7 linked regions of the Homo sapiens genome follow. The protein of the gene in region 6 interacts with the protein of the main gene of each other region in a pairwise test. Each region holds a gene or a part of one and is shown on either strand. Other genes may lie near its edges. The genes, in order: DLEU7, KANSL2, CADPS, LRPAP1, CKAP2, TTC3 and ATF7IP.

What was found.
Region 1: the proteins of TTC3 (region 6) and DLEU7 interact in a two-hybrid assay, tested with the Homo sapiens proteins (one large-scale study listed by BioGRID and IntAct).
Region 2: the proteins of TTC3 (region 6) and KANSL2 interact in a two-hybrid assay, tested with the Homo sapiens proteins (one large-scale study listed by BioGRID and IntAct).
Region 3: the proteins of TTC3 (region 6) and CADPS interact in a two-hybrid assay, tested with the Homo sapiens proteins (one large-scale study listed by BioGRID and IntAct).
Region 4: the proteins of TTC3 (region 6) and LRPAP1 interact in a two-hybrid assay, tested with the Homo sapiens proteins (one large-scale study listed by BioGRID and IntAct).
Region 5: the proteins of TTC3 (region 6) and CKAP2 interact in a two-hybrid assay, tested with the Homo sapiens proteins (one large-scale study listed by BioGRID and IntAct).
Region 7: the proteins of TTC3 (region 6) and ATF7IP interact in a two-hybrid assay, tested with the Homo sapiens proteins (one large-scale study listed by IntAct).

What each region holds. Positions count from the first base shown.
Region 1 is NC_000013.11:50,840,893-50,845,066, forward strand, and holds the start of DLEU7 (leukemia-associated protein 7), read right to left. Parts: upstream 2,801-4,174; 5' UTR 2,755-2,800; coding exon 2,296-2,754; intron 1-2,295.
Region 2 is NC_000012.12:48,652,711-48,655,474, forward strand, and holds the end of KANSL2 (KAT8 regulatory NSL complex subunit 2), read right to left. Parts: intron 2,351-2,764; coding exon 2,231-2,350; intron 1,821-2,230; exon of another isoform or gene 1,672-1,820; intron 1,466-1,671; coding exon 1,334-1,465; 3' UTR 501-1,333; downstream 1-500. UniProt on the Homo sapiens protein: Non-catalytic component of the NSL histone acetyltransferase complex, a multiprotein complex that mediates histone H4 acetylation at 'Lys-5'- and 'Lys-8' (H4K5ac and H4K8ac) at transcription start sites and promotes transcription initiation.
Region 3 is NC_000003.12:62,872,617-62,876,807, forward strand, and holds the start of CADPS (calcium-dependent secretion activator 1), read right to left. Parts: upstream 2,801-4,191; 5' UTR 2,414-2,800; coding exon 1,973-2,413; intron 1-1,972.
Region 4 is NC_000004.12:3,505,768-3,508,422, forward strand, and holds part of LRPAP1 (alpha-2-macroglobulin receptor-associated protein precursor), read right to left. Parts: 3' UTR 1-2,655. UniProt on the Homo sapiens protein: Molecular chaperone for LDL receptor-related proteins that may regulate their ligand binding activity along the secretory pathway.
Region 5 is NC_000013.11:52,472,478-52,474,802, reverse strand, and holds part of CKAP2 (cytoskeleton-associated protein 2), read right to left. Parts: intron 975-2,325; coding exon 719-974; intron 1-718. UniProt on the Homo sapiens protein: Possesses microtubule stabilizing properties. Involved in regulating aneuploidy, cell cycling, and cell death in a p53/TP53-dependent manner.
Region 6 is NC_000021.9:37,079,754-37,083,253, reverse strand, and holds part of TTC3 (E3 ubiquitin-protein ligase TTC3), read right to left. Parts: intron 308-3,500; exon of another isoform or gene 1-307. UniProt on the Homo sapiens protein: E3 ubiquitin-protein ligase which catalyzes the formation of 'Lys-48'-polyubiquitin chains. Mediates the ubiquitination and subsequent degradation of phosphorylated Akt (AKT1, AKT2 and AKT3) in the nucleus.
Region 7 is NC_000012.12:14,368,682-14,372,181, reverse strand, and holds part of ATF7IP (activating transcription factor 7-interacting protein 1), read right to left. Parts: intron 1-3,500. UniProt on the Homo sapiens protein: Recruiter that couples transcriptional factors to general transcription apparatus and thereby modulates transcription regulation and chromatin formation. Can both act as an activator or a repressor depending on the context.

The sequences.
Region 1 (4,174 bases), on a different chromosome or scaffold from region 6:
AAGGTGTGAGCGGGTTGAGGTTTGGATGAAGAAGGCTTGAGGAGGATGGAAAATGTTTAGAATCAAAAGTCAATTAGAAAGGGCTAAAAGGATTTCCAAGTAGAAGTGACTGTGGCATTAAGCTAAAATGGCATAGTTTATAGTGGACTGCTTCCAGAGCAGAGGACACGGGGTTTAGTCCATTGCCACTGAGTTGGGTCAAGCCCTTAGACAGCTGTCTTCTGACCTGACTTTCAAACTGAAACCTACCCTTCTGTGATTTATCCAGGCTTCTGTGATTTACCTACCCTCTGCTTGCAAGACAATCCAAGGTCCTCAGCATGACACACAGGCCTTTCCCTAACTGGCCCCCATTTGTGTCTCCAGCATCAGTTTTTGCCTTCTGCCATATTGAACTTAACTGTAGTTCCTCTAGAGCCTCAGTCCCTTTCAGTGCTGCTGGGCCTTAACCAAAGTATTCTCCTGAAATATTTTTCCCTTTAATGTCTGGAAAATAACATGTATTTTTTTTTTAAAGGCTGCCTCCTCTGAGAAGCCTTCCAGGGTCACCTTAGGTAAAACTGATTGTCAGTCTCTCTTTTTGCCAGCCTTACCTATGCCCTGTATGTGCTACTGACATCACAAGTCACTTCATATTTCATCTATTTTAAAATGCACTTTTATTCACATTTTTTAAAAATCCCTGAAATCAGCCAGATGTGGTGGTACAGGTTTGTAGTTGCAGCTACTGAGGAGGCTGAGGCAGGAGGATCACTTGAGCCCAGGGCTCGAGGCTGTAGTGTTATGATCGCACCTGTGAATGGCTACCACACTGCAGCCTTGGCAACACAGGCAGACCTTGTCTCAAAAAAAAAAAAAAAAAAATCCCTTAAATTAGCATGTAACTTATAATCAATGGTGTATCATAGTTCAATGACAGGATTAAAAAAAATTTTGGTGATACCAAAAAAAAGTACATCTTACATTGGAGAGCATTTGGTGAAATGCAGCTTCATTTTCTAACTTTCTAAAGTGAGTGTAGGAGTGCTTCTCATCTTGCCTCCCACCCCACCGCCCCCGCCACCTTTGGCAGTGTCTGGAGACATTTTTGGCTGTATCAACTTGCGGCGAGGAATATGCTGCTGGCATCTAACAGGTAGAGGCGAGAGATGCTGCTAAACATCCTCTAATACACAGGACAACCCCCGACAACAAAGAATTAGCCAGGTCAAAATGTGAATAGTACAGAGATTGAGAAACCCCTACGTAGAGAAACAATACCTATTTGGGTATATAATAGGCTTTATTATGTTTGATTTTAAATAAATCTTTTACAGTGTATAGTGCAACTTAATGTATAGCAACTTTTTCCAAACCTTGGCTTGTACAGAATAGCAACTCTTGAGACATATTCTAAGCTCTCCTCATCACCCCTCCCCAACTCCTTCTGCTAGATGCCCCAGGGAAATAAAATACAGCAATGCTCCTGGTCAAAATCTGAAAGCCAGAATGTCTCAGAGAGATTCGTGACCTTAAACCAATTAGGTTAGTTAATGGCAAGTCCAGGACTGAAACCCAGACCCCCAGATTTCCGCAATCTCACTCAGCCTGGGAGACAGCTGCTCCCTTCCCGGGCTAAATTGGCTAACACAGTTTGGTACCTTAAGAGGAAATGTGCCCTACCTATATGAGCTGGGTGACTTAGCAAGAGTTTAGCATTTAGTATTCACGCTTTAACACCCGGGACCCACCCAGCTCTCACCCCACTTTATGAGAATGTAGGTTGACTCTGTAAGACCCCTTAGCTCTGTGGGGAATTGGATTTATGCAAAAAATAATAGTGATTCATGAATGTGAAGGAACTTTAAATAAATGTAGATGATTTCATCATACAAAAGGCAGAAGGGACTTAGTAAGTGTATTTAAGGCTCTGGAGGAAGCGTTATTAATTTGGAAAGTGGGTGGGGGGAGCTGTCCTCTATCCCTACAAGCTGCACGTGTGGAAAGGGCCTTTCTAGCGCAGGAAGCTGATTTATGTGAGAGAGGAAGGAGTTCCAGGGGGAGGTTTTGGCAAGGCAGTCCCCACATCTCGGTTGTGCCAGCCAGGCGGGCCTCAGGTGGGTCTGGGGCTCCCTGCCCCTCCTGCTGAGTCCCCAGAGTGTCCCCCGCCCCCTTCCTTCTCCCACTGGGGCTGAATCACAGTGGGCAGCAGTGTTTGGGATCCTGCGATCCACCCATCGCCATCCCAGCAGCCCCACCCTTGGAGGATGGGAGGTTACCCTGCACGCCAGAGGGGATGGCGGGGGCCAGACTCACCTTCAGGTGAATGGGAAAGGACCGCTCCTGCTGGAGGGGCCCCAGCAGCGTCTGCTCCACGCTGACCAGCTCCGAAGTCGAGTCCACCACGCGGGCCAGCGCGCTGCGCATCGCCATCTGGGCCAGGGTGCAGGGCCCGCGGTCCCGGGGGAAGGGCAGCAACTCGGCGCCCCCCTCAGCGCCTCGCACTACCTCCTCCTCTGGGGAGTTCGCCCGCGCCGCGGTCCGCCGACTCCTGGTCCCCACGCCCCCGCCCCGCTCCTCGCGCCCGGGCCCCGGCCGGGCCCGCGGCGGGCCTGAGCGACGGGCTGGAGCGGTGGACACGTGGTCTGGGTCCCGCGGGTTCCCGGGGGCGACTGGACCGTCCCCCCAGCCCCACTCCTGCTGCAGCAGCTGCAAGGTCTGCAGAGCCACCATTTGGTGGCTGATGGAGGCCACTAAGGGCGCAGGGCTGGCCATCGCCTCCGCTGGCGGCCCGGCGCGCTCCGCGTGCAGGTGGAGCAGCAGCGAGGGAGGCGGGGGCGTTGGGGTCGCCAAGGTCACATTTTCTAACCCGCGGCTCCTCGGCCTCTGGGTCTCACAGCGTGTGTGGTCGGCCCCGCCCCCGGCTCTGAATCGGTGACCCGTGCTGGCCTCTGCCTTCGCCTGAAGTCCGAATCAGGCGTGTTCTGACCCAAAGCTGCCTGAAGCGCTGCTCGGTGTGCACTTGAAAATCAGCGAAATGCTGAGCGTTGCTTCTTCCCTCTCTCCAGGGCTTTGATGAGAAAACGTGCTGCTTTGTGCGGGCGCATCCATCGGCGGGGATACCCCGCCCCCACCTCCTTCGAAGGATGCCTGCCAATGACCACTGAGGTCTGGGAGGTGGGGGTGCAAAAGACCCACTCTAGGGCAAAAGTACGAAGGGCTCTAGAAAAACTTGCAAAAGGAAGACTGTGCCTTTCCCAACCCGAGGGGAATTTTCAGAAACTTGTTGAAGCAGCCTTCAAGGCCTTGCATCCCCCAAACAAAAGAAGGAGGAGTTGTGTATCTGGAAGTTCTGCTCTTCTCTGCTTTGCTGGGTGCCACTTGAGCACCGAGAGCCTGGTGGCTGAACTAGCATCAGCAAGCCTCAAGGCCCAGGCCTGGCACTGCCCAGAAAAGCCTAAATGTTTTTTTGTGACACTCCCAAAAGACTTAGGCAGCAAGGTTGAAGTTAATCCTTTTATGAGCCATGAACTTAGGGACAGCTGTACAAATAGTTGCTGTTTTTAATTAAACCCAACATGGCTACTTCCTTAACTTAGAAAAAAGCGACTAGCAATGTTATGCTTTGATAGATTGGAAACCATGGGTGTGTGATCACACTTAAGAAAATAGAAGATATTTGAGAGGAGTGGTATGGAAAACCAGTCCGGAGCAGCATTGTTCCTGCTTGCTTTCTGCAAGGAAAACCACTAGACAACCCAACAGCCCAGTAAAGCCAGGGCAATGGTGCATGCCCACGACAGACAGGTGGGCCCTGGCAGACCTGAGGATGGAATTGCATTACTCCTTTGGGAGCCAGACTGCACCCTTGGTGCTGTGCAGATCTGGAGAGGCTTTTGAGTGAAAAGGCCACACTGGTTAGTCTGTGAGCACAAAAGGATCATCAGAAGAGATATGGAGAGGGATGTTGGGTCCTTTAAGGTTTCCTTAACCCTGGGATAGTATGACCCCATATAATCCTCCCAACTTGCCAGCAAAGGTTCCTTCTCCTTCCCAGTGCTTTCTTCGCCTATGAAAACGAATCTGAATGCCAAGGTAAAGAAAACCTTTCTTAAACAAAAACGAGTATGTTCACACTAATTATAACTAAGTAAAAATGCACGTCTGTGCATTGACAGAGAGGAAATTACTTTGG
Region 2 (2,764 bases), on a different chromosome or scaffold from region 6:
TGTAAGCCATTCTGTGCCCATTTCAGTTCTTATAGAAAGTAATCTTTTGCCCTCCTTGTCATAATGCAGTATAGAAATAGACAATTTCTAGCATAGGTACCTCAACCCTAACTGAACTTCTATTTTAATCCTGCTCTAAGATTCAGTGTCAAAACGATCTTGACAATACCTATCTATGTCTATCTTAGTGATCCAGCATCAGGCCCAATTTCTCTATGTTTTAAGTATATTCCTACCACTAGAGAATTCTGAGATGGTATTAGCATTATTTTTTTAAAAATAATTATTTAAAATTTAAAAATATAGACACAGGGTCTCACCACATTGCCCAGACTGGTCTTGAAGTCCTGAGCTCAAGTGATCCGCCTACCTCAGCCTCCCAAAGTGCTGGGATTACAGGCGTAAGCCACCACGTCTGGCAGAGATGGCATTGGCATTAATCGTGAGAAATGGGAGTGGGTGTAGGAGACACAGAGTGGAGGGTAAAAAGAAGAAAGATATTTGGAACTGATGGGCTTTAATAAGTCCTGCCCCTTTTCATTTACTTCTTCCTTCAAAGCAAAACCAAAATGAGCTACTGAAGATTTATTTACTTCTTGGGATGGAAGTATCATCTGTCCCAACTTCCCTTTCCCATCAGAGACAGGTCCCCAAAACCGCGAAAAAGAAACTATATTCTCAAACAAAACATGCATTCAATTCAGGTGACTGTTTGATATTTTCATAACATTTTCTTTAACATTTAATAGAAACTATATACAATAAATTTTTACTATATTTTACATAAGATAGCAACCACAGAAATTTACATAGGTTAAAAGCAAGACGGATAAGGAGGACCCAGTCCTGTGGGCTGTTTTCTCAGAGGATAAAAAGCCAGAGTTCACCAGGGAAAGGGGTTAAAGACTGCCCAATTAAGTAGAGGTGAAGAAAAGCTAAACTGCAGGTCTTCAGATAGAGATAACCGATATTAGGGCCATCAGTATCTCAAAGACACCACTCACAAAGACAGCTCCCACCTAGCTACTTAAGTGGATTTCTATCCATGACTTGGGAAATCCCATTACAAAGATGTCACTTTCCTTTTAGGTATAGTCCCAAATAATCCCAGAAGCTTTGATAGGGATTATCTCTCTTTCTCTTCCTTGCCCTGAGTGGGAAGAAACCCACGGTCCACGTCCTCAAAATTTGGCTTTACGTTTGACTATAATACTCAATCCAGAAGAAAAACAAGGTAGTCTGGGTTGCCTGTGTTTTGTGAGAGATGATCAGAAATACTTCTTTGAAGAACGAGAAATTTAAATCCACCAAAGTAAAATGGTTCCCCAAACTATCAACTAATAGAAGTGGGTTCTGGCTTCCCATTTGCAGTAGCCAATCCACTCTGAGACAATGGTGCAGAGGCTTTCTCAGAATTTCGAGATCCCTGGGATCTGCACCCATCTCCAGCCATCTGCATCTGGCCCTGTTAAAAGAAATAAAGGCACTTCAGTTAGTAATTCATTCACTGTGGTCTGAAGTATGAATCTGACTTATCAGTGGCCACTTAAACTAGCAATAAGAACAATACAACAGAAATTAATTCTGGACAGATGCTCTTCCCATATTAGCTATCCTAGTCCCTTGGAAGAGCCTATTCCTGAGCCTCTTCCAATGGGATGGTGAGCTGTAGGTTGTTTCTTCCAAATGAAATAGCCATTCCCTACTGAGGTCCCAGAACAGCCAACAGACCACAGGAAGACAGTCCTTTAGGCCTCTGCTTGAAACCAACAGCCACAGTACAACTGCTGGTCTTCAGTCAGGGCCACTGGAATTCTACCCAAGGCTCACGGACAGAACTCAAATCACATTACTTTACTGGTCCTTCTACAATGAGAACAATTTCAGTGATGAACTCTCCCTCAGAAGGTATGATTTCCCTAGATTCCTTGTCTCAAGCTTTTATTTAAATAAATGTATGTCCTACTCTGGGATATGAGGATCACGGGCCATTAGGTGTTCTAAGAGCCCATCTGGAGAACTACAGCAACAAGGGTACACAGGAGCAGAGTAGGGCATTTTTAAAAGTGCTTTGCTTATATGGTATTCAATAAGTGAGAGACATGTGGAGCATCTTTATACTAGTGATGACACCCCACTCCCCTCCAGGAGCACATGCTATCTAGCAGGGAACCCTCTGCCTGGCCAGGTCACTACATGAGGGAAACAGGTGGGACTGTTCTTCACTTGCCAAAATATCCACTGGGTCTTCAGCAATTTCTTTGACTAAATGATCTTCAAGGGTTAGTGAAGGATCAAAAAGCAAAGGTGAAGGAGGACACTGCATACCATCACCCACAACATCCAAGTCCTAGAAAAAAGAGAAAAGCCCATCAGCAATACCAAGGGAAACAGTAATAAAGTTGGCATGTTTTTCAGCAAACTTTAAAGCAATACTCTGCTGTCTCCCTCAACCCTAGCCTACCTTTAATAAAAAAAAAATTTTACAAGAGCGTCCAACAAATGAAACAAGATCCAAAAGCACTGAGAGCTTTTGCTGCCAAGTGTAAAACATAGACCAATACAGTAGATTAAAAAACAAAATTCTGGCCACCACACCTCTAATCCCAGCACTTTGGGAGGCCAAGGTAGGCATATCACTTGAGCCCAGGAGTTCAAGACCAGCCTGGGCAACATGGTGAAACCCCGTCTCTACAAAAACTGCAAAAATAAGCCAGGCGCGGTGGCACACACCTGTAGTCCCAGCTACTCTGGAGGTTGAGGT
Region 3 (4,191 bases), on a different chromosome or scaffold from region 6:
TTTGAGTGGATTCAGGTAAAGCATACAATCAGATCAGAAAAATCTGGCCTTATAATAATCTCTAAAGTAACTGAAGTTTCTGTTTAGAAGAACTGTGTCTCTGTGGGATTTCTTTCTCCATGCTAGCTCTGGACTTAAGCAACTATTTAAAGGACAGACCTCTAGAGACTTTGATAAATGTCTCTAGACATCTCCCCCACCCCTTTCGACCTAACACTTAAAGTCACAGTTTTCATTGTCAAAGGAATGGAATATTTTTGGCTGGTGCTGTTATTACTGGGATAGATTTTGGAGGTTGAAGTTCCTATGCTGTAAAGGCACAATTACAATAGGAATTCCAAACTGAAATGTGAACTATTAGGCCCCGTGGACTCAACATCCAGCCTTAAAATAATATCCCAAAAACTTTTACTTCTCTGAGGATACTTTTGCTCTACTGCAGTCAAAAATACGAATTGAAAAAACAAGGGGCCACAGATAAAGATGGAGAGTCTTGTGTGTAACCCACCTCCTGTCTCTCACCCTGGAAATCAGTTTTATCTTTTAATGAAACTGATATCCAAGCTCGTGATGGCTGAAATAAATCATCAGTGCTGGGTGGTGTGTGTACACATGTAAGCAAAACAAACAGAGAAATCTGTGCTAACTCAAGGTAAGGGTGGATAAATACGGAAAACCTAATGCTACTACAGCAACATGTAATTTGTTCTTAAATGGCAGCAACTGAAAGATTCACTATTTTCAGACACTAGTCTCACAGTCTTGATGGGGTTAGGACTGGCCTCACACTGCCTCTGTGTGGGGCTTGACTGGCTTTTTTGATAGCTCAAGTGCTGCAAATTTATTTAAAAGAGAACAGAACGCTGACTTTCTTCACTAACTCACTCCAGCTGGGTTCCTGCCTGCTTTTCTTCTGTCCCCACCCCCCGCCACTGCCCCTCATCTTGCAGTACCCCTCATCCCTTTCTCCAGCTAAAGAACAGCTGATAGAAATAGGCGCCTTTTTTTTTTTTTTTTTAACATCAAAGGCAGCCCAGAGCTATGTCAGCCTTGCCCCAGCCTCAGACAGAAAAAGCTTTTGATGCCTCAGATTGCGAAGCTTTTTGCAGCTGTACTTTATCAAGGCAGCAGTGGCAGGGCTTGGAGGACCCAGGCGAGCCAGAAGGTGGCGGCGAAGTCACCTTGGGAAGAGGAGAATAGGGTCAAAGACAGGACGGCGGAGGGGCTGACCCGGACGGAAGGACCAGAGGGCGTGCCCCTGCTCTGGGGTCAGTGAGGAAGGGTCAGGGGGACTGGTGAGAACTCCAGCCATAAGGAAGCAGTGCCCGAGGACACTTTGGCGACGCTAGTCGGTGATCAGCTGACCCGGGCAGGGAGAGGAGGGTGCCCTTCGCAGAGTCACGGGAAGCTTCGCCTTCTGGGCTTGCTTTCTCCCGCCTGCCCCTGCGGTTGCTCTCTGCCCCAGCGAGCGGAGCGCTGCTCCAAGACGCTCTTCTCCCTCCACCTCGGCGCCCCCACCTGCCGTTGCCCCCGCCCGCCGAACGCACGCCCAGGAGGGCGGGCCCGGAGTTGAGCGCAGCCGCCCGCCGCTGGAGAGCGCTGGGAGCCCTGCAAGCGAGCAAGGCCTCTCTGGGCGCCGCGGGCAGCAAATCACTCCCCGAGCCTCTCGGTCCACAAAGCGGGACCTGCCTGCCTCGCTCACCAACGCTCCCGGGCTGGGGGGGCTCGAGCAAGCGGCGCTGCGCTCCGCGGCCCTCGCCGGTCCCAGTCAGCTCCAGGAGCGCTCCAGGCTGGGTTGGGCTGGGCCTGGGCGAGCCCGGCCGCTGGGAGGGGGCCTCGTAGCCCTTTCCCCAGGGCGCGGTCTCCACCTCTCCTGCTCCTCCTCGCCAGCTGCGCCGCCAGCTCCCATTGTTCACCCCGCCCGCCTGGCGACGTCCGGGTGCTGCTCCCTGGGCCTCCCAGGCGCACCTACCTTCTGCTGCCGGCGAGCCATGTCGGTGGGCTGCTTGGCATTAAAGGGGTAGGCGATGCAGCGCATCACGAACACATACAGCTGCAGCCTCTTCTTCCTCTCCTCCTCCTCTTTCTGCAGCCGCTCCAACTCTTCCTTCTCCTTCTCGCTCACCACCGACGGGCTGGGGCTGGAGGGCCGGCCGCCGCCAGCGCGGCTGCTGGGTTGCAGCCCCCCGGCCCCGCCGCCGCTGCTCGCGCCGCTGCCCCCGCCGCCGCCTGCACCCACCCCGGCTCCGGCGCCGGCGCCGCCGCCCCCCAGCCCGGCGCTGCCGGCCGAGCCCTCGCTGGTACGGCTGGGAGACAGGCGCGCGCCGGACGGGGCCGAGCCGAGCACCTCCTTGCCGCTCTCCTCCTCCACGATCTCATCCGATTCTTCTTCGCTGGACGAAGGGTCCAGCATAGTGGCGCCTGGGGAGCGGGGTCTCTGGAGCCCCCGGCTTGGAGTGCAAAAGGTGGGGGGCGCTGGAGGCAGCCGGGGATCAGCTCTCCCGGGTGGGCGCTTCTCCCCAGGTCAGGGAGCGAGAGCGCTGCTGCTCAGCCTCGGCCGCCGCGACTGATCCTCTGCCCGGCGGTCGCGAGCTGGGCTCAGACCCAGAAGCGCGAAGGGAGGAGGGGAAGGGAGAGGTGCGTCCGTGGACTCGAGGTGGGCAAGGGGGAGAATCAATTGCGAGCCCCGAGCCCGCAGCCGGATGCCATCTGCGGCTGCTGAAGGAGGCGCCTCCAGAAAAGATGCCGAGTGTTGCAAGCTGTCGATGCAGCCAAGAGCCGAAGAGGCATCTTGCCGATTGGGGAGGGAGCGGCGCTTACGTGTTTATTGGCTTAACTCTCCCGTGTCCGCGGCGTAAAGGGCTGCTGCAGAGGGCTGGAGGGGGGAGAGCGCGGAGCGTCCTCAGAGCCTCAGTACTTCTGACCCCAATACCTTGCCACCCTCCTCCCCTGCCGGCTTCGTGGATAATTTTTTTGTTGATATCTGGCTCTCATTGCCTCAACCCCTTTTCCCCTCCCGCGGACAAAAAGTTCTTGGGGGAGGGAGAAATCCAGAAACCAGCCGAGCGGGCTGTTTGGAGACGCTAAATCGAGAGGTCTTACTTAGGAGGAGGAAGTCCGTGAGATCTTATACGGGAAAGAAAGGGTCCATCTCCTTTCCCCAGGCTTCTTTACACCTGGGGCGTGGGGGGCGTGGGGGCTGGGCAGCGTGTTTGTCCCACCTGTGTAAACTCTGATTCCAGCAACTTATTCCGCATGCGCCCAGTCTAATTAAAATAAAAGTGAATCAAATTTTGAATGGATTGGTGTTTCGACCAGGCAACTCAACCATTTATGTAGCGCCCCCGACCTTGCCTACCCCCACCCCCAAAATCTATGATGAATCTTCTTCAGTTCCCAAGACCTGGGAATGCTTTCTGCTGAGGTGAGCCTACCAGAAAAATAGAAGGGTTTCTGGTTGCTTAACCCTCCCTCCATTCTGGCTCGGTGGAGGCTTGGGGACCCCGCGATCAGACAAAGACACCCTAAGAACTCAGCGGCGTCAACATCTAATGCGTCGACTGTCGCACTCTGTTCACCCCTGCCTCTCGGGTAAACTATTAATACAAAGCAGCAGATGGTGCCTGCCTTCCCCGTGCTCCTTTCACTTAGGCCAGTAAACCTGGTAAACGAGGGAGCTGGCCAACGTGCTGAATGTAACCTGCGACCCGCACGCAGATGGATGAAAACAAACCACCAGCCAGCCACCTTCAGAACTTAGGCTATCTAGAGACCTCTCCACTTCATCGCCTATATTTATGTATTTTCTAGTTCTCTAATTATCTGTAGATACTCGTGGGAGTGATTTTAATAGTGTAGCATGAGTTTAAAGTTTAAATCACTTTTGTCTTTACGTATTTTATAATTTACCATGAGTTTTACTAGCTTTGATAGTAAAGTGACCTGTTTGAGACCTGCAGATGAACTCAGAACAACTGGTTTCACATTAACCTCAACAATTCTGTTTGATCTTTTGAGTTAAGTACTTGGATGGCTTATATTTGACTTCACCACCATACCTCAAGGACACAACTTTTGTGGCCATCACACATTTGGTAACAACACAAAATTTAAAAAAAATTGAGCAGTGCGGGGATTGTGACAGTTTTGCAGCCTCACTTTTTAATTCTTCTCAAGAAGTAAAGGATGTTC
Region 4 (2,655 bases), on a different chromosome or scaffold from region 6:
CTGGATTACAACTCGGCAAGATGCTGGGGAGGTTTCTGTTAGGGTGGAGCTGGAAGCCATCAAGTTCCTGGGTAGAGATGACCTTTCAGATGGATGCTGACCCAGCAGGCTGGGCTGAGCTGGGACCAGCTCTTCCACTGCCCTGCTCCGAGCCTGCTCTGGTCAAGGTGGGCAATGCTGCCCTTCATGTACTTCCAGCCCCGGAGGAGCTGAACCTAGAGATACCTGGAAACCCAGCTTAGGGAAGTAAAAAAAAAATCACTGCATCTCATAATTATTGAGATATTTTTAAATTTTCAAGCTTTTTTTTTTTGAGACAGAGTCTTGCTCTGTTATCCATGCTGGAGAGCAATGGCACGATTTTGGCTCACTGCAAACTCTGTCTCCCAGCTTCAAGTGATTCTCGTGCCTTAGGCTCCCGAGTAGCTGGGATTATAGGCAGATGCTGCCACCACTCCTGGTTAATTTTTGTATTTTTAGTAGAGATGGGATTTTGTGATGTTGGCCAGGCTGGTCTCAAACTCCTGGCCTCAAGTGATCTGCCCGCCTCAGCCTCCCAAAGTGCTGGGATTCCAGGCGGGAGCCACCCACACTTGGCTCAAGCTGGGTTTTTTTTTTTTTTTGAGGCGAAGTCTTGCTCTTGTCCCCAGGCCGGAGTGCAATGGCGCGATCTCGGCTCACTGCAACCTCTGCCTCCCAGGTTCAAGCCATTCTCCTGCCTCAGCCTCCCAAGTAGCTGGGATTACAGGTGCCTGCCACCATGCCTGGCTAATTTTTTATTTTTAGTAGAGATGGGGTTTCACCATGTTGGCCAGGCTGGTCTCAAACTCCTGACCTCACGTGATCCGCCCACCTCCACCTCCCAAAGTGCTGGGATTCCAGGCATGAGCCACCGCACCCGGCCGGCTCGAGCTGTTTTTAAGAGGATATATCCTGGTTTGCTGCTGTGTAGTTTCCCCAAAGTCTCAATTTGATGAGAAAATAGAAAGACCACTAGAACGGAAAAATAAAAAATAAAAATTAGATTTCATCAAACTGGAAACCTTTGCTTTCCAAAAGATAACCATTAAGAAAGTAAAATAGCAAGCCAGAGGATCGGAAATTATTCACAACACATATCTGAGGAAGGACTCACACCTAGACCTGGGAATAACGCTAAGACCAGGCTGGGTGTGGCGGCTCCCGCCACCTGTAATCCTGGCACTCCGCGAGGTGGAGGCAGGTGAATCACTTGAGACCAGGACTCCGAGACCAGCCTGGGCAACACAGCGAGACCCAGTCTCTATAAAAAAAACCTTTTCTTTAAATTAGCAGAGCATAGTGATGCATGCCTGTAGTCCCAGCTACTCAGAAGACCGAGGTGGGAGGCTCGCTTGAGCCCAGGAGTTTGAGGTTGCAGTGAGCTATGATCGCACCACTGCACTCCAAGCCTGTGCGAGAAAGATCCTGACTCAAAAAAAAAGACAAGATTTCCAAGACCCAGTTTTTTAAATAGGCAAAAGAATTAAGTAGGCCCTTCCCAAAGACGCCACCCAAATGGCCAAGAGCAGACAAAAAGGTGTCATGCCTCTGGCACCAGGGAAGTGCAAGTTACTACAAAACGAAAACAAAAGAATCAAATGGATTTAATTGTCTTTTTGTTACTGATTTCCTCCTCAATTGCACTCTGGCCAAAGAATGTGATTTGTATTATTTACCTACATATCATATATTTATACATTATCATCTGCGAATTACTGACATTTGCTTTGGGTCCTAGTACCTCGTCCATTTTTAAAAGATTCCATGCGTGCTTAAGAATGTTTTCTCTAATGGGCATAAGTAGACCAAGTTTTTAACTGTATTATCCCATTCTTTCATATTCTTCATCAATGATCTAAGCCTCTATCAAAAGAACCTAAAACAAGGACAGCAAATTGAACACAAAATAGGTAGAAGAAAGGAAATTCATAAGAAAAGAGCAAAAGTCAATGAAAAAGAAAACAATAGAAAAAAAAAATCAATGGACCCAAAAGTAGGTTTCTTTGGGGAAAATATCTGTAAAAATGATAAACTCTTAGCTAGTCTGATCAGGGGGAAAAGAAAACACAAATGGCCCAGAGCAGGAATGAGAATGGACATCACTGCACAGAGGATACTGTGAATGATTTATGTAAATTGTTTTGATAACTTAGATGAAATTCTGCGACAAACCTATCTTTAAAAAAATGACAAAGGAAGAAACAGAAAATCCAAAAGCCTCATGTCTTTTTTTTTGAGACAGAGCCTCGCTCTGTTGCCCAGGCTGGAGTGCAGTGGTGTGATCTCAGCTCACTGCAACCTCCACCTCCTGAGTTCAAGTGATTCTCCTGCCTCAGCCTCCAGAGTAGCTGGGATTACAGGCATGCACCACCACACCCTGCTAATTTTTATATTTTTAATGGAGACGGGGTTTCACCATGTTGACTAGGTTGGTCTCAAACTCCTGACCTCAGGTGATCCATCCACGTTGGCCTCCCAAAGTGCTGGGATTACAAGCGTGAGCCACCATGCCAGGCCTCATGTCTATTTTTAAAAATCAAGTTCTTAATGAAAAACCTAAGCAAAAAGAAAATGGCAGGCATAGATGGCCTCACCCATCACATCTCTATGAAACAAATAATGCCAATCCTATAC
Region 5 (2,325 bases), on a different chromosome or scaffold from region 6:
GTTATAAGCAGGTAAAAGCATTTAATTGTCTTTTAGAGAGGTACTATAAGCTCACCGAAGTGAGAAACTTATCCTTTTCTCAATTTGTCATTACAACTTGTATACAGTAGATACCTGAGTATCTGTAGAACTGGCTAATTCCTGAAAGCCAAAACCTACTGTTATTAATAACACACAGATTAAAGTAAATTCAAATAAAAGTTTTCTTTTTCAAAATGGCAATAGTTAGGGAAAGTAAATACAGTATTTAAGAGGTGAAATGTTCTAATGACATTCTATTTGTTTAAAAACTTTTCTGTTTTCTTTTTTGTTTTGAGACAGGGTCTCGCTCTGTCATCCAGGCTGGAGGACAGTGGCATGATCTTGGCTCACTGCAACCTCTGCCTCCTGGGCTCAAGTGATCCTCTCACCTCAGCCTCCCAGGTAGCTGGGACTACAGGCACACAGCACCTTGCCCAGCCAAAATTTTTTTTATTTTTTGTAGAGATGGGGTTTTGCCATGTTGCCCAGGATAGTCTTGAACTCCTGGGCTCAAGTGATCTGTCTGCTTCGGCCTCCCAAAGTGCTGAAATTACAGGCGTGAGCCACCATGCCCGTACTGAAATTTCTATATTAATAAATGGTAGCTGTAATCTGAAGCTATCTCAAAGATTTTTAAATGCCGTTATTTATTATCTCCAAGCATGAAAACAAATCATGGTACATTTTAAAAGTTTACCTTTGCAAGTATGGCGTAGTAGACACATTATATTTAATTAAGCAACTTGTCCTCGTTTCTGTATTGGGGGTTTTAACATCATGGGTTGGATCTTTTGTTTTGTTGTCTTGCTCTTTTTCACAATCTTGAAATAGCAAATTTCTATGAAGTTTACTCTCCATTTCCAGTTTTTCTGGATCTACATCAACACCTGTATCTTCAATACTGACTTCTTTGACTTCTTCCTTGCTTGCACAAGACTTCTCCATATTTTCTCCTATAGAAAATACATTTATAGATTAAGCTTTTGGCTGAATTTTAAGAACAAAATCAGAAGACATTAAAGTTGTTCCTAGTTGGCCACATTTTCAAAATAAAAGAACACGATTGCCATCTCTGAACCATTCCTTTTCCTCAGCAAATACTGCTGCCAACTATATAACAAATACTATTATAAAATGAAATAAATGCTATATATGAAATAAGAACAAAGGATTATTAAAACCCACAAAAAGAAACAACTAACTTTGCCTGTGGTATAGGGAGATGGTTAGGGAATGCTTCACAAGCGAGATTTAGGCTGGGTCTTAAAAATGAGTACTTGATCAAGACCAAGGAAGACAACCTTCATATGGCACATAAAAGAAAATGATCTATTAAATTAACATAACATTAAAGAGCCAGTGTGTTTAGAATATAGGGTAAGGAACAAGGTTAGGAGTGGGAGCAGGAGGTATTGAGCTTAGATAGGTAAACAAGAGCTAGATTGTAATGAGCTTTATATGAAAGAAGTTTGGTAAAAAAAATTCACCAGAGAGCTAGATTGTAATGAGCTTTATATGAAAGAAGTTTGGTAAAAAAAATTCACCAGAGACAGACATAATTAAATTTGGTCAATGTAAAGGACTGTCTAGAATGGCAGAGAATGAAAAGTAACAATCTGTGATGGCAAGAAGACAAGGTTGTTGTAATAGCCTAAGTAAGTTAGGAAGAGATCAGATAGGAAAGGAAGGGTCCAATCTGAGAAATATTTCTGAGAACATTTTTTTTTTTTTTTTAGAGACAGGGTGTCTGCCGTTCTGTCACCTAGGATGGAGTGCAGTGGCATAATCTTAGCTCACTGCAGCCTCAACTTCCCAGGTTCAAGTGATCCTCCTGCCAAAGCCTCCCAAGTAGCTGGGCCTAAAGGTGTGTACCACCATACCCAGCTAATTTTTACTTTTTGTAGAGATGGGGTCTCACTATGTTGCCAAGGATGGTCTCGAATTCTAGACCTCAAGCGATTCTTCCACCTTGGACTTCTGGTGTTGGGATTATAGGCGTGAGCCACCACACCCACCCAAGTCAGAACTTATTAACAAATGAATACATGACTGTGTAGGAATGAGTGTGCAAATGTATTAGGAGCGTCTTATCCAACATTTCTTAAGAGTCATAAATGCCAGAGAAGAGTTTTTTCTTTTCTTTTTTGGGAGAAAGGGATGTTGGGTATGGGAAAGGGATACTGGGCATGGGAAAGCAGTGAGGGCAGACAAAGAGTTCAAAATAAAACATGTTAGGCTGGAAATACTTGTGAGACATCCTGGTGAATCCATTGAGCTGGAAAAAAAAACCTCTGAATTTAATTA
Region 6 (3,500 bases):
AACCTAGAAGCCAGTCATACCCAACTGCTTGTCCTTCCTAAACAAAACTTATTCTGCAACCACCTAATGTCTATTAGTTCTTAATACTCAATTTCAGGAAGCATTTCCTGATCTTCCCACTACCATCAAGTTGATTTTTGCACCTCTTCTCTGTAAACAAGAGCACCCTGCCCATGTCTCTGACAGCAGTTTTCACATTGTTTGACCATCACAGGTTTATCTCTGCAGGGTCACTATGGATCCAGAGGATATATTGTGCAATCCATTTGCCATCTGTACTGCTATTTACTTAATACTTTTCTTTAGGATAACTCAAATCTTAACTTAGATGTAAACTAGTTTTAATGGAAATGTTGGTATCACCAAGAAAGCTTGCTTGGTACCATAAAATTTTTTATAATACAATCAAACAAAAATATACTACTAAAATTAAATATTAAAATAAAGAGCTTCTGATCCCATCAGTTATGGTCAACTATACACTCTGGGGGAATGTACTGTTGGGAGGAAAAAGGTATATCCTAGATTAAAAAAAAAAACACTTTTTGGATGTTTTTGCTGAGCTCATAGAAATAGGGGAACATGTGAAGGCACCCTCTCCACGCAAAAGCAACAAACCTTGAGCTAGAAATTAAACCTGGCTACAGTTTAGTGCTACAAGTAGTGGTGCCAAGAGCAGTAATAGGATCAGGACACTGAGCCCTGGGCCAGAAGCAAAATGTAGGAACTCAAAAGTGATGCCAGCTAAACTTTCTGGCTCCCAGACAAAGCTGATAGAAATGCTTTCAGAAAGCAAGCATCCTCAAATTAGACTCTCAAGATCACCACAAAGATCAAACAGAAGTTCATAATCAATGATCACCAAACACATGAGGTGACAGCTACATTGAGGAGAGACAACAGAAAAAAAAACAAAAAAGCAATAAATTTAGACATCCCCCTCCTCAAGGATATCAGACATTGGGAATGTCTGATATAGTCTACAGAATAGCTATAGAGTCACAAAAATCAGCATATAACATGAGAACATGAAGAATGACTGGACATATCAAAAAAGAACCAGGCAGAACTTTTAGAAATTAAAAATGCGGCCGGGCATGGTGGCTCATGCCTGTAATCCCAGCACTCTGGGAGGCCAACGTGAGCAGATGACGAGGTCAGGAGATCGAGACCATCCTGGGTAACACGGTGAAACCCCGTCTCTACTAAAAATACAAAAAAATTAGCCGGGCGTGGTGGCGGGCGCCTGTAGTCCCAGCTACTCGGGAGGCTGAGGCAGGAGAATGGCGTGAACCCGGGAGGCGGAGCTTGCAGTGAGCTGAGATCGCGCCTCTGCACTCCAGCCTGGGCGACAGAGAGAGACTCCATCTTAAAAAAAAAAAAAAAAAGTAATTAAAAATGCAATTGTTAAAAGAAAAAAAAGAGACAGGATGGGTTACAGAGGATATTAGGCACAGTTGAAGAGAAAATTGGTGAACTAAAATATATGCCTTATGAAATTATCCAGCACTGTAAATTCTGGTAAAGAGAAACAAAGAGATAAAAAATATGAAAGATAAAGAATAAGTGATCTGGAAACAGTTTAGTGTATATATATATCCAGTTAAAGTTCCAGCAGGAGAGAAGAGACTAATGAGACATAATATTTAAAGAATACAGGGCTCAGAAACTTCTAGATCTCATGAAAGACAAAATGCAGAATCATGAAACACATGCATCCAAAATAGGATAAATATAATCTCTATCTAGACTTAGAAGTGAAATGATGTAACACAAAAGACAGAAAATCCAATGTAACTAAAAGAAAAATGATATTTTCTTCAAAAAACGCATAAATAGGCTGGGTGCAGTGGCTCACGCCTGTAATCCCAGCACTTTGGGAGGCTGAGGCGGACAGATCACGAGGTCAAGAGATCAAGACCATCCTGGCCAACATGGTGAAACCCCATCTCTACTAAAAATACAAAAATTGGCCAGGCATGGTGGCAGGTGCCTGTAGTCCCAGCTACTTGGGAGTCTGAGGCAGGAGAATCGCTTGAATCCAGGAGGCGGAGGTTGCAATGAGCCAAGATGGCGCCACTGCACTCCAGCCTAACAACACAGCAAGACTCCACCTCAAAAAAAAAAAAAAAAAAAAAAAAAAAGGCATAAATAAAACTGGCAGCACACTTTGTATAAGCAACAGCAGAATAGTATTCCTACCCTACTGACAGAAAAGAAACACCAACCTACAATTGTACATCCATCAAAATGATCTGTCAAGAACAAAGGTAAAATAAAAATACTTTTAGATTTTTTTTAATATCTAAAACTGAGTCAAACACCAACCAAGACACCTGGAACATAACCAATTAAAAGACAGAAGTTGTCTGGTGAGATTAAAAGAAAAATCCAGTAGTATGTCCCTTATAAGAGACACTTAAAATGTAAGGACACTAAAAAAAATCAAAGTAAAATGAAAGAAAAGAATATTCCAGGTAAATTAGCACCAAAAGAAAGACGGGATCAGACAAAAAGCCTCTAAGACAAAGAAGCAAACTTAGAGAAGATCACAATATAGTAAAGGTTCGAGCCACTAGGAAAAAAATGTTAAGCTTGCATGTAGCTAATAAAAGTCTCAAAATACAGAAGAACAAAAATTGTTAGAACTACAGGAAATCTGTTAGAAACTAGTAATGGTGGAATATTGCAACACACTTCTCTCAGTTAATGATAGGATAAACCAAAATTAATAAGGATAAAGACTATCAGAACAACACAAATAACAAGCTTTACCTAATAGACACTTAACAATTACAGAATATATACTCTTCACAAGTGTACACAGAACAGTTCTAATAATTCACTATGTACAAGGCCATAAAGCAAGGGCAAAAAAAAAAAAATGCTAAAAAGATAAAATATTCTCTGGCAACACAAGTAAGAAATCGATAATTAAAGGAAAACAATATAGACACATTTGAAAATTTAAAAATGTCTAAGTAACTCATAAGTCAAAGAAAAAATCAAAATAGAAATTGTAAAAATACTTAGATTTGAAAGTTAATGAAAACACTATAAATTAAACTATGTTAGATAAGCAAAAATGAACTTTGAGGAAGTTTACAGTCTTGCATGCTTATACTAGGAAATCGGAATGGTTGAAAATTAATATTAAGTGTGTAATTTAAGTGAAAAAAATAGTAAAATAATAAACTGAAAGTAAAATGAAATAATAAAAGAGAAAAAAGATCAATGAAATAAAAAACAAATAATAGAACAAATTAGGCCAAAAGTTAATCCTTTGCCAAGATTTTAAAAATGGACAAACTTTTACTAAGACTGATCAAGAAAGAGAAGTCAGACATAAATAATATTCAACATGAGAAAAGGGGAACACATATACAAATAAAACAGAGATTAAAAAGAGAATTAATGCCATACCACGAGCGGTGGCTCACACCTGTAATCCTAGCACTTTGGGAGGCCGAGGTGGGCAGACCACTTGAGGTCAGGAGTTT
Region 7 (3,500 bases), on a different chromosome or scaffold from region 6:
ATCTGAGAAAGAACATGGCAAAGTAATGTTTAAATACTCTTGGCCTCTCTAATAAAATATAAGGTCAAACAAGCAAGAAGTTTAAAAGAGAGTTCCACTAAAGGATAGGCAATTTCTAAGTACTCTAGGAAAGTGACAAGGACTATGGTCTCTGAAGCTAATTAATGACATTAAGGTAATCTGTTTAAATAATGTTAAAACATCACCTAATTTTTCAATCAATAATATGCCCCACAACTGTTAGAAACTCAAAAGGCAGGAACTTTATTCTCAAGCTTCTTTATACATGTGACTCCCTTGAAAAACAAGGTATGCAGCCAATGCATAAATTTTCCATAGGCCTCAAAACCTAAAAGAAAAAATTATAATAGAAATCCTTCTAAACTAAATCACACGCTCATTTCCCTTCTGAAATAGGTTAAATATAACAATATTCTCTGATTCAGAATCATTAATAAAATCATCAATTAATAATGAACATTCTATAACTACTGATTCAGCTCTGGGAATACTGATTCCCAAACTAAATAGCCTCATAACTAAGTTTATAAATTATTGCTTCTAACAGTAGAAATATAACCCTCCTTTACTATCATGATGCTGGACATCATTTCTTTTCCCTACCAAAATGCATTTCTCAAGTAGCACTTCTAATTTTTTACTCCTCATCTGTTATAGTCTAGAAACCAAGTATAATAATAAACCAGAACTAGAAAAAGTTCTCAACTTTCACAAAAAAGTAAAATATCTAAGCTGTTATAAGCAGTGTTGCTTGAAAAAGACCCAAAGGCAGGGATTTTTCATTAAAAAAGATAAACTGCTTAAGAAAGGCCAATAATATCTTAATATTTTATATCCATTTTCTAGATTTATTTTCATAAAGCCAATAATATTTTATCATTTGAGTTCTATATTTCCGTGATTTCTTCTTTTCATTCCTCCACTAATTTACAAGTTTAGTTCAATAAAAATGTTATTTTGGCAATAAACTGACTCCTGAATCAATTATTTAAAAGATATAAAGTAGAATTACAGCTGAAATACATCCTTATTAATCAAGATAATCTTTTTCAATGCAATCAGCATAAAAAAGAGATTTAATGGAAAATAAATTTATTCTAATAATTAGGGAAACATCCTTATCAGAAAATATAATAATTTAATGATACCAAGGAAACTAAAATAAAAATTTTTTATCTTTATTATGAGATTAAGCCTCACCCTGGCCAGAAAAGGAGTAAGGTACCTTTTCAAATTCCTCCATCAAAAAAAAAAAAAATTGTCTGTGTTTAACAAAAAAGGATTTTGATTTCGAATATTGTACAATACTTTATTTTGCGACTTATTTTTCCCACGTCTAACTTCATACTGATACTACTTTTATGTCATCATGTCCTAAACCAGATTGAAAACAGAAATATAACCTTATATTGTCTCCTAATTCATCCCTACTAAAATTATAGCTGCACCAAGAAAACATCCTCCTGAAAAGTCACAGATACCACAAATTCTCCCAGAGTTCCTAGGAAATAGTGCTTTTTGGTAGTCTACAGGAAGTGTGTAATACCGATGAATTAAAAAAAATAGTATAAGGTTATAAATTCACCCAATGTAAATTTAATGGAATTGTAACCAAAACCATTAGCTGGCTTTTTTTTCTTAATTAACCAAATGAACCTAAAGTTGATCTGCAAAAACAGTCAAAATCAGCTATGAAAATTGTAAAATAGAATTGTGAGTGGGTATTGGATTTTATATAGGATATAGCACTACAAACACATATTTAAATTGTGTACCGTCCTACAGCAAATAAAACAATGCAATAATGCTCTAAGAATAAGGCCCAGATACAGTCATTGTCAACCTCTGTTTAAACTTTATATCATATATTCTTTTGAGAAGCTAATGAAAGCTATCACTTTTTCCCCAGAAAAATGCACATAGGAGGCCAGGCGCAGTGGCTCACACTTGTACTCCCAGCACTTTGGTAGGCCGAGGCAGACGGATCACCTGAGGTAGGAAGTTCGAGCCAGCCTGACCAATATGGAGAAACCTCGTCTCTACTAAAAATACAAAATTAGCCGGGCATAGTGGCACATTCCTGTAATCCCAGCTACTCAGGAGGCTGAGGCAGGAGAATCATTTGAACCTGGGAGGCGGAGGTTGCGGTGAGCTGAGATCGTGCCATTGCACTCCAGCCTGGGCAACAAGGGCGAAACTCCATCTCAAAAAAAAAAAAAAATGAACATATGCAGACTTACATAAAATTGTGTATATCAAGGGATCGGTGGAACCCCTAGAGGACAATGGACCCCAGGTTAAATATACCTAGTATATGAATCAGAATTGTTTGCTACCAAAGCAATAAGAAATGGATCAAGTCTATGGAAACTAGATATCTGGAAAAAAATGGAAACTAGCAACTTATCTTAACACACAATATGTCAAAACACAGATATGTCCACATAGATGTAAAAGTATTTTTTAAGTTTATTAAAACTTCCAGAAAAAGTTCTAGTAAAAAATTAACAAAACACATGAACAAGGCTGTGCACGGTGGTTCACACCTGTAATTCTAGCACTGTGGGGGCCAAGGCAGGCAGATCACCTCAGGTCAGGAGTTCAAGACGAGCCTGGCCAACACGGGGAAACCCCGTCTCTACTAAAAGCAGGGCATGGTGGTGCACGCCTGTAATCCGCTACTTGGGAGGCTCAGGTAGCAGAATCGCTGGAACCCAAGAAGAGGTTACAGTGAGCCAAAATCACACCACTGCACTCCAGCCTGTGAGACAGAGCTAGACTCCACCTCAAAAAACAATAATAATAAAATAAAATACAATATAAACATACAATTCACCTTACAACAGGTAATATTTTCTGGGCAGACAAGTGCTGTAGAAATCATAAAGGAAAAAGGAAAGGCAGTACAGGCTGGACATGGTGGCTCATGCTTGTAATCTCAGCACTTTGGGAGGCTGAAGTGGGAAACTCTCTTGACCCCTGGAGTTCAAGACCAGCCTGGGCAACATAATGAGGCTTTGTTTATTAAAAAAAAAAAAAAAAGAAAAAATTAGCGGGGTGTGATATCCTTCACCAGTAGTCTCAGTTACTCCAGTGGTGGGAGAATTGCTTGAGCCTGGGAGGTCGAGGCTGCAGTGGGCAGAGATCACTGCCACTGCACTTTAGCATGCGCAGCAGAGCAAGATCCTATCTCAAAAAAAAAAAGGGGGGCAGTACATTTTACTACATAAAAATGCAAAACTTCTTAACATATACAATCATAAACCACTTAAAAGGTAATTTTAAAATTACTGTGACAAATATTAAAAGCTAAGGACCCCAAAGCCGTAAGTAGCTGTTACCAACAAATAAGAAAAACAGTAACACTCATCATAGAAAAATACACAAAAAGTCAAACAGCTAATTCACAGAAAATGAAAAAAATGCATATATAAAACAATAACAAATTCAACTTCACTAGTTATCAAAAAAAGTTAATG